Linked DNA regions of Homo sapiens. The protein of the gene in region 2 interacts with the protein of the main gene of each other region in a pairwise test. Each region holds a gene or a part of one and is shown on either strand. Other genes may lie near its edges.

What was found.
Region 1: the proteins of MS4A4A (region 2) and CMTM7 interact in a two-hybrid assay, tested with the Homo sapiens proteins (one large-scale study listed by BioGRID and IntAct).
Region 3: the proteins of MS4A4A (region 2) and SEC22A interact in binary tests that used the Homo sapiens proteins (3 or more experiments, as listed by UniProt).

Annotation. Positions count from the first base shown.
Region 1 is NC_000003.12:32,440,277-32,443,934, forward strand, and holds part of CMTM7 (CKLF-like MARVEL transmembrane domain-containing protein 7), read left to right. Parts: intron 1-1,563; coding exon 1,564-1,737; intron 1,738-3,658.
Region 2 is NC_000011.10:60,297,565-60,301,222, forward strand, and holds part of MS4A4A (membrane-spanning 4-domains subfamily A member 4A), read left to right. Parts: intron 1-3,436; coding exon 3,437-3,493; intron 3,494-3,658.
Region 3 is NC_000003.12:123,222,443-123,226,100, forward strand, and holds part of SEC22A (vesicle-trafficking protein SEC22a), read left to right. Parts: intron 1-1,116; coding exon 1,117-1,280; intron 1,281-2,660; coding exon 2,661-2,855; intron 2,856-3,658. UniProt on the Homo sapiens protein: May be involved in vesicle transport between the ER and the Golgi complex.

The DNA.
Region 1 (3,658 bases), on a different chromosome or scaffold from region 2:
CATACCTGTAGTCCCAGCTACTCTGGAGGCTGAGGCAAGAGAATCGCTTGAATCTCGTAGGCAGAGTTGCAGTGAGCCAAGATCATGCTACTGCACTCCAGCCTGGGCAACAGAGTGAGACTCCATCTCAAAAAAAAAAGAATCACTCCTCCATAGGAGAGAGGCAGTGTATAAAATAATCTTTTTTCTAAATTGGTTGTGCATTTTAAATAGATTCCTGGCTGGAAACAATGGCTTACGTCCATAATCCCAGCACTTTGGGAGGCCAAGGCAGGGGGATTGCTTGAGCTCAGGAGTTTGAAACCAGCCTGGGCCACATGGCAAAACCCCGTCTCTACTACAAATATGAAAATTAGCCAGGCATGATGGCACACGCCTGTAATCCTAGCTACTTGAGAAGCTAAGGTGGGAGGATGACTTGAGCCCAGGAAGCAGAGGTTGCAGTGAGCTGAGATTGGTTCACTGCACTCCTGCCTGGGGAACAGAGCCAGACTCTATCTCAGAAAAACAAAAACTAAATAACTAAATAAATAAGTAGATTCTAAGATTTTACACACATTGAATCCCGTGTGTTACTGGTTTGTTCCCTACATGGAGTAGACAGGTTTTCTCTTTGGCCTTCACGGAAGCTCAGACTGTTACTCATTCTACTTTCTTGTACTCATGCATTGCTAATAGTTTTCATCTGGTTATTAATTCAGTAGCAGGCCGTTAAGCATGTTCACTCGTGCTGAGATATTTCTTAGTGAGCTCTCACCACATGCCCTGATGGTGAGCAGCCTCACCTCTTAAACAGGATTCCTGCATGGTTGAGAACCCGTCCACCTTTCTCGGCTTGTTATGATCAGAGCTTACACTTTTGGGAGGTAGAACTGCATCTGACATGGAGGAACATGGTCCTTAGAGTCAGACAGACCTGGATTCAAATCCCACTTCTGCTTACAAGCCAGATAGCCTTGGACTGATGATTGAACCTGCATGCCTCCGTTTCCCCTTATGAACATGGGGATGATTTTGTCTACCTGGCAGGGTTCTGCATGGCCTTAGCGAGATCACGTATGTCAGACATCAGTAAATGGTAACTTGTTATCTGTCAGTTGATAGCTGTAAGGTATGAATTACCATCTTTGTAGGTCAAAAACCATCAAATATTGGCAACTTCGTACAATTGGGCCTAATATGTAAACCCCAGGTCACCATCACGCTGTCCTCTTTGCTCTATGGATATCCAGCAGATGAAAGGGATGGTTCTGCTTTGTTATTTTCTTGTTTTCCTGCTTCTTCTGAGGGGGCTTCCCGCTGGCACAATCTAACAAACTTCAGAGAGGACGAAGTCAGTCTCTGCTGTCATCAGTGTTCACAGACAGTAGTTTCAAAGTGTGTACCACATGAAGTTGCAGTCTTCCAACCTTCCAGCCAGTGTGTATGGAAATAACCTGAATTGTATTAATAGCAGTTCTTCAATGTGGGCCTGCTGGGGGATGCTTGGTTGTTTTCCGTTGTTTGTTCCCTGGGTGCCCGTCTTGGGCAAGCATTTCTCTGATGTCTCTATTTATGTGGCAGGTCACCCTGCTGATTGCCTTCATCTGTGTGCGGAGCTCCCTGTGGACCAACTACAGCGCCTACAGCTACTTTGAAGTGGTCACCATTTGCGACTTGATAATGATCCTCGCCTTTTACCTGGTCCACCTCTTCCGCTTCTACCGCGTGCTCACCTGTATCAGCTGGCCCCTGTCGGTAAGAGAGTGGTCTGGCCCTGTCCTCCGCATGCACAAGTCAGGATGTTAGCTAGAGTACTGAGACCTGACAGAGTTTTTCCCGTCTGCCCATCTCACCTCTTTAACCATTCTTTGCTGCCTCTGCCCTGAATTTCCTATTGTTTGGTGGACATCTCTGCTTGATGTCCTGCTGGTTTTTAAAACTCACTTTCCAGCTACAAGAAGGCTGTGGCTGGCCGGGCGCGGTGGCTCACGCTGGTAATCCCAGCACTTTGGGAGGCTGAGGCGGGCGGATCACGAGGTCAGGAGTTCGAGACCACGGTGAAACCCCGTCTCTACTAAAAAATACAAAAAATCAGCCGGGCGTGGTGGCGGGTGCCTGTAGTCCCAGCTACTCAGAGAGGCTGAGGCAGGAGAATGGCGTGAACCCGGGAGGCGGAGCTTGCAGTGAGCCGAGATCGAGCCACTGCACTCCAGCCTGGGTGACAGAGCGAGACTCCTCTCAAAAAAAAAAAAAAAAAAAAAAAAAAAAAGAAGAAGGCTGTGGCTATTGCCCCATGCTTACTTTCTCAAGCAACAGAGAATGGCTGTGTGTGTATGAGTTGGGAAAAGGAACACGGAAGGAAATTGTAGGTGAAGATGATGGGTATTGATGCTGTTGTGAGGATTGAATGATAGGATTTTCTGGCTAAAAGAGACTAGTGGGGGCTGAGGAGACAGTCAGAAGTTGCCAGACTTTTTCTTCCCACTGTATTATTTTTTAAAGCTTCATTGAGATGCAGTTCATATGCCGTATTGTTCACCCATTTCAAGGGTACAATTCAATGGAGTTTAGTATATTTCCAGAGTTGTCCAACCATTACTACAGTCAACTTGAGAACATTTTCATCATTTCAGAAAGAAATTCCATACCTTTTAGCTGTCACCTCCCTACCACTCATCCCTCCAGTCCTAAGCAATCACTAATCTTCTGTCTCTAAAATTTTTCTACTCTGAACGTCTCATGTAAATGGAATTGTATATGTGGTCTTTTGTAACTGGCATCTTTCACTTAGCTGAATGTTTTCATGGTTCATCCATGTTGTAGCAGGTATCAGTATTTCATTCCTTTTTTTCTTTTTAGAGACAGGGTCTCACTCTGTCACCCAGGCTAGAGTGCAGTGACGTGATCGCGACTCACTGCAGCCTCAACCTCCCAGGCTCAGGTGATCTTCCCACCTCAGCCTCCCGAGTAGCTGAGACTACAGGTGCATGCCACCACACCTGGATAATTTTTGTGTTTTTTTTTTTACAGAGATGAGGTTTCATTGTGTTGCCCAGGCTGGTTTCAAACTCCTGGCCTTAAGCAATCCTCCCACTTTGGCCTCCCAAAGTGCTGGGATTACAGACATGAGCCACCATGCCAGCCTTTTTATAACCAAATTTTATTCCATTGTGTGGATAGACCAGACTGCATTTTGTTTTTCATTCATCTTCAGTGGACCTTTGGGTTGTTTTTACCTTTTGGCTATTATGAATAATGCTGCTATGAGCATTCATATACAAGTTTTTTGTGTGGACATATTTTCATTTTTCTCTGGTATGTATCTAGGAGGGGAATTACTGAGTCATATGGTCACTTTGTGTTTAATTGTTTGAGGAACCGCCAGACTGTATGCCAAAGTGGCTCACTGTTTTACATTCCCACCAGGAGTGTATGAAGGTTCCAGTTTCACAACATCTTTGCCAACACTTATTATCTGACTTTCTGATTCCAGCCATTCTAGTGAGTGTAAAGTGTTATTTCCTGTGGTTTTGATTTTCATTTCTCCAGTGACTAATGATGTTAATCATCTTTTCATGTGCTTTTGGCCATTTGTATATTTTCTTTGAAGAAATGTCTATTCGAGTCCTTTGCCTATTTTTTAATTAGGTTATTTGTCTTTTCATTATTGAGTTGT
Region 2 (3,658 bases):
AAAGACCCAAACCAGAATGGCTTAAACATTGGAAGCACTGATTATTTCACAACAAGACTAGTGGCTTATCATTTCTAGGATGGCTTCATTCAGTGGTGCAAGGATTTCATCAAGGATTGCTAGCAGACCACATCAGAGGGGAGATGGTTGACACATCCAACTTTTGGTAAATATTTCATATACATATTCCCAAATCAACTGTCAGTAAGGATAACGGACTTGCCATTATTGGCTTGGACTAATCAAGATTTACCTCTGTAGCTGGGAGGAGTCTACCCTACCTTTAGCTCATGAGAAACTGAACAAAATGATGGTTTAGTTAGCAAGGAAGAAGAGGAGATGTGGCTGGTACACAAGCAGTTTCTAATATCTAGTCTACTGACTATCGAAACTCAGGAAATTGTTACCTCAGAAAATGAAAATGTTATTTGATATATTTTGTTTCATAAATTCAATAAAATAACTAATTATTATAATTAATATTAAATTAATTATAACTATTATTAATATTACATTAAAATTAGAATTGGAATTTAAATTTAAAAACCTTCTCCCAAGAGAAAACACAAGATAGTTTTAATGCAAATTGAGAGTAAAATTGAGAATAAAATACCAAGTTTTATCCATTGAAGAGAGAAAAATAAAATTTATAAGTTGGGTTTATGTTAGAATCAGGGAATCTATTCTAGCATTGCAGGGTTTCCATTTATTTCTAAAACTGAGAATGAGGTAGTGTAGAGTTTTATAGAAGAGCTTGCTTTTTGATCCCCTTCACCTGTTTACAGCAGAAGTGCAAGATTGGAAGAACAGTAAAGCTGTGTTTTACTTCTAGAAAGCTGCACAATACTTCATATATCCAAAAATACTGATGCCAATAACAGCTCTTATTAAACTCTTACTATCATGTGGACACTCTACTTAGTGCTTTATATGTGCAATTTCATTTCAAACAATCACCACGAACTTCTGATTTTTCATTATAATCATTTTATGGATGAAGAGAGGTTAAGTAACTAACCCAACATCACAACTGCTTGGTACAGGAATGAAGATTCAAATAGGGTCAATGTATTTTCAGAATTGCATACATCTAACTACTTAGTTTTCTGTTTTTATTTCCGTTTCCTTTTCAAGATCACATTAAAAACCAGCTTACATGGTGCAAGCCTTCCACACATGTTCAGTAGATTACCAGGAACTGCAGGAGCCATTTGTCCGCTGAGACATCACTGAGACTTTCGTAGGTGTTCCATTAGATGAGCCTTTACTTAATTGGTGAACTCTTTTCTGCGGCTACCTTCCATTATTCTTTCAACCTTTTTTTCCAAACCTCTTCTATGAAGTGCCTCCTTTTTCTCTTTCATACAGTATAAGTACCAATACCAAGAACCAGTCACAAGTTCCTCTTATTTTTGGCCTCTTCAGTTCTGTTTCTGTATATGTTTCACATTCCTTGTTTTTTCCTCTGAGATAGTACATACATACTTTTTCCTGTGGCAAATGAAGTCCTCTTATTCAATCCCATCTTCAAATACACAGACATACATACACACTTGTAATGTGTATATATAATTTCTGTATAGAATGTTTTTCCAAGGTGCCTTATTGAATTTTTAGAATAGTTTATGGTAATTTTTAGTTCACGTTCTTGAATGTTTGCAATATATATTGTTCATACTTAAATAAGAATAGTTAAACCACTTGTTCCAACTATTTTTCTTATGTAATTATTTTGGTAAATATACCCAGAATAGTATTACATAATAGTCAGCATCTTTATCTTGATTTTGACTTTAATGAAATGATCCTACATTTTTATCATTAAACATAATAAAGACTTTTAGACTGAGACAGATTTCTATCATGTTACAGAAATTACAATTCTTTTTTTTTTTTTTTTTTTGGTTTTTGGTTTTTGGTTTTTTGAGACAGAGTTTCGCTCTTATTACCCAGGCTGGAGTGCAATGGCACGATCTCGGCTCACTGCAACCTCCGCCTCCCGGGTTCTCACCATTCTCCTGCCTCAGCCTCCCAAGTAGCTGGAACTACAGGCACCCGCCACCACACCCGGCTAATTTTTTTGTATTTTTAGTACAGACGGGGTTTCACTGTGGTCTCGATCTCCTGGTCTCGTGATCCACCCGCCTCAGCCTCCCAAAGTGCTGGGATTACAAGCGTGTGCCACCACGCCCTGCCAATAATTCTTTATATTTTACCAGTAATGTTGCAGTTACTAATAATGTTGAATTGTATTAAATGTCCTAGCCTATCAACACTGTAAACATGAATAGCAATAAGCATGTAATTTTTTTCTTAAATTCATTAATTGTGTAAATTAGAATATTTCAATATTAAAAAATGTTTGTAGAGCTGAAGGAACATCCCAAATGTTCATGATGTATTTTATATCATATGATGGGTGATTCCCTCTAGTGGTTTTATTCCAGTGGTGATTTAGATATCATGAATCATCTCTATGTCTGGGTATTTGGAAGTTAAATAAATTTATTGAGCTTTTTTATTAGTTCTGTATTTTTTATATTATGATATAATCTTTGAATCATCTGAAATCAAATTTGAAAAGCAAATTAAAAACTCCAACAATTGAATATTAAAAGATAGAGAGTCTAACCAACTTGACTAGTTATTTTAGCTAAATGAAAAATAATTGCCTATTGATGGAATCAAATGAACTACTATATTCTAGTCATCATCTAATTGGGAATTTACATTTTTTTGCTACTATTTTGCTTATAAGTTTAAAAATATTGGCCGGGCGCAGTGGCTCACGCCTGTAATCCCAGCACTTTGGGAGGCCGAGGCGGGCGGATCACGAGGTCAGGAGATCAAGACCATCCTGGCTAACACGGTGAAACCCCGTCTCTACTAAAAACACAAAAAATTAGCCCAGCGTAGTGGCGGGCTCCTGTAGTCCCAGCTACTCGGGAGGCTGAGGCAGGAGAATGGCGTGAACCCGGGAGGCGGAGCTTGCAGTGAGCCGAGATTGCCCCACTGCACTCCAGCCTGGGCGACAGAGCGAGACTCCGTCTCAAAAAAAAAAAAAAAAAAAAAAAAAAAATTCTAAATGAGAATAATTTTAGTGTATTTTTTGTTTAAATATAGTCATCAATTTTGGTACCATGTAAGAATTACTTTGTATCAGGAGTTTGGAAACTATCTTTTAGTGCCCTCAAACAGTTTTAATATCATTTCAGTTAGATATTTGAAAAACTTGATAAATTCTCCCATGGATTTATCTGGTATTATTTCTCTGTTCTTTCTGGGAAAAGGGAAAATAATGTGCAAACCTTTGTGGTTTTCTTTAAGATAATTGGTCTGATTAACATATCTATCTAATTTAGAATTAAGTTTAGTAAGTTATGACTCCCAATACTGGCTTAAAGTTTTTTACCTTCATTTTTTCTCTCATTTTTAGTTTATTATTTCAGGATCCTTGTCAATTGCAGCAGGAATTAGAACTACAAAAGGCCTGGTGAGTAATATTTTCTTTTTTTGGTATCAAAAAAAGGAAGGATTAATAAAAAATGTATTCTGCCAGGGTGTAAAACAGGTTTTGTTTCTTTGTTTGTAAAAAATCAGGAGCGATTGTGCATTTTACCTACTAGAATCTGTCTTTCAAAAACTGCAGTCAGGCTAA
Region 3 (3,658 bases), on a different chromosome or scaffold from region 2:
CCCACCTCGGCCTCCCAAAGTGCTGGGATTACAGGCCCCCACCATGCCCGGCCTCTTTAGCTTCTTTTGATTGGCAACATTTCCACATCCTTTATTTCTTTTTTACAACCCTGGCACTTTTAAAGAATACACTTTTTCCTTTTCAAAAATAGAATGTTGATCATTTTGGTGTTTTCTTAATGATTAAATTCAAATTATGCATTCTCAGAATATTATATAGCTGATGTGTCTTTCTCAGGATATAACATCTGGAGACACACAATGTCCATCTAACATGAATGATGTTAGAGAGTACTTGGTGAAGGAGTTACCTAGTTTCTACTGTATAATATTTTCCCCTTGCAACTAAGAAACAATCCATGGAAAGACATTTTAAAACCATGCAAATATACTAACCCGTAAAAATTTCCCCCTAGATTTAACATCCATGATTGTCCTTGCCTGATCCAATCTTTACTATGTTGGTTGCAAAATGCTGATTTTTCCATTGCTAGCACTTCCTCTACGTTTACCAGTCAACACTCAGCATTCTGCTTTAAGCCATAGCCCTCATTTCTCCTTTTGTTTTTTATATAAACTCATAAATTCCCCCCTCCCATGGTTCATAATTAATTACTGTGTAAAGTAGAGGATTTGATTCTGGGGTGTGTCAATGATAACTTCAAGAGGTCAGTGATCACCTTGAAATTGTGTGCAATCTTCTGTGTTCTGGCATCTTTCTAGGGAGAGTGTTCCTGTCATCAGAATCTTGAAAGGGTTCTGGACTCAAAAGTGGAAAACATATTGAAGGGTTAGACTTTAAGCTATCTGTAATACTTACAATACATTTGTATATCCATTCCCCTGCTTTTTACCCCAAGTGATAACTGAAATGTTAGAACCGTATTGTGTGTCCCTCTGTAGTACATTCTATTTTTTGTCTTCTGTTTTTAAACCACAACTTAAAATAGTGCTGTATTTTGGTTCCTTTAAATTTTTTCCTAGAATATATAATAAATGTTAAGATCTTCATTGCCACCGTAGTAGCAGTTTATGGTGTATAGAACCAGTCTTGTGAAGCAGTGAATTACCTTGATTTAATTTGAAATTTTAAAACCAATGTTTTTTACACTGTAGTTTTATTAGCTCTCTGGGAGTGAGCTACATGATGTTGTGCACTGAAAATTACCCAAATGTTCTCGCCTTCTCTTTCCTGGATGAGCTTCAGAAGGAGTTCATTACTACTTATAACATGATGAAGACAAATACTGCTGTCAGACCATACTGTTTCATTGAATTTGGTAAGGGCCTGATTTTTTTTTCCTTTTTATTCTGTCTGCATCCAATCATAAGCAATTTTAAATCTAATATTGGGTGGAGGGGGGACTTCTGCTATCTTGCTTTTGATATAATAATTTGGTAAATGATCTATAAATTATGGTAACTTTTTACTTAGATGCTTATTAGAAAAAAATTGTGTTTGAGCTGTGAAGGGGATTGTGAGTATTGGTCCGAAGAATTAATGCCAGAGGATAACTTCTCAATGAGAAATTTATAAGCCAGAGATTCAGACTTTTGCGTTTCTGTAATAATCTTTTATAGTCTGCTTCATGTAGAATAGGGGATGGCAAACATTTGCTGGAAAGGACCAGATAGTACATATTTTAGACTTTAAGGATCATATAGTCCCTGTCACAACTATTCAGCCCTGCCGTTGTAGCTCGAAAGCAGCCATAGGCAGTACGTAAATGAGTGCAGTTATATTCTAATAAAACTTTACAGAATAGTCAGCAGGCTAGATTTGGCCTGTGGGCAGTAGTTTGCTCAACTTCTGATGTAGAAGAAAAAAAAAAAACACCATGTTGTAAATAGTAAAAATAAAATTCCACTTGGAAAATATTTAGGAAATGTCTTATGTTAGTTTTATTCAATTTATTCTTTAAAACCTACATTCTAATGGTGTAAGCAATAAAAAACAGATTTATAAAAACATGCAACTTCTAGTGTGTGTTCTTATGTAATTGCAGCTGGTAAATCTGACAGATTTAATATTTCATGAGATAGGAATCTCTATAAAAATCAAGACTTTGGGCCAGGTGTGGTGTGGCTCATGCCTTTTATCCCAGCACTTTGGGAGGCCGAGGCAGTAGGATCACTTAAGGCCAGGAGTTCGAGACCACCCTGGGCAACATAGACCCTGTCTGTACAAAAATAAATAAATAAACTGGGCATGGTGGCTCACACCAGTAGCCCCAGCTGCTTGGGAGACTGAGGCAGAAGGATCACTTGAGCACAGGAGTTTGAGGTTACAGTGAGCTATGATTGTACCACTGCACCCCAGTCTAGGTGACAGAGCAAGACCCTGTCTCAAAAAAAAAAATTCAAGACTTTGGTTTAAAGTTAAAGCTGTTTTTTGTTTTTGTAATTTCTTGAAGTGGATGTAATACACTTAGGTAGTGTTAAATCCTTAGTTTATTTAAAATTACTGATTTCTAGAGGGTAAAACTGATGATTCCATGATACATTAATCATTAAACACAAGTAATATTGGACTATTTCATGACGAATTGAACAATTTTGAATAATAAACTACCTGTAATATTTACTATCCATAAACATCATATTCTGAAATGATTAATTGACAAGTGACTGCAAGGAAATTTATTTTTTATTTTACATAGATAACTTCATTCAGAGGACCAAGCAGCGATATAATAATCCCAGGTCTCTTTCAACAAAGATAAATCTTTCTGACATGCAGACGGAAATCAAGCTGAGGCCTCCTTATCAAATTTCCATGTGCGAACTGGGGTCAGCCAATGGAGTCACATCAGCATTTTCTGTTGACTGTAAAGGTGCTGGTAAGATTTCTTCTGGTGAGTTCTGGATCTCAGTTATTTTATTTTAAAAAAATCCTTGGGAAAAACTGAGAAACTCTTGAAAATGAATTACTTTATTCTAATATTTTAAATCAAGTACATGAGAGAATATAGAAGTTCAAAGCAATCCTTTCAGTGATTTATAAAGTAAGCTACCAGATGTGTGACTAATCGGGAAAATACTTTCAAATAGCAACCTCAGAGGATCTCTTTGCTAGAAAAACATTTTTTTAAATTTAAAATTAAAAAAAGTTAATTTTCATGGGTACATATTCGGTGTGTAATATATTTATGGGGTACATGAGATATTTTGATACAGGTATGCAATGTGTAATAATCACATTAGGGTAAATGGGGTATTCATCACCTCAAGCATTTATTATTTCTTTGTGTTATAAACATGTCAGTTGTGCTCTGTTAATTTTTAAATGTACAATAAATTATTGTTGACTGTAGTCACCCTATTGTGGTATCAAGTACTAAATCTTATTCATTTTAGCTAACTATATTATGTACCCATTAACCATCACCCTTTCTCCCACCCCCACTACCCTTCCCATCCTCCAGTAACCAAAATTCTACTCTCTTATCTCCATGAGTTCAGTTGTTTTAAACTTTAGCTCCCACAAATGAGTGAGAATATGTAAACTTTTCTTTTCTGTGTCTAGTTTATTTCAGTTAATAAAATGTCCTCCAGTTCATCCGTGCTGTTGCAAATGATAGGATCTCATTCTTTTTTTATGGCTGAATAATACTCTGTTGTGTATGTGTGCCACATTTTGTTAATCCGTTTGTCTGAT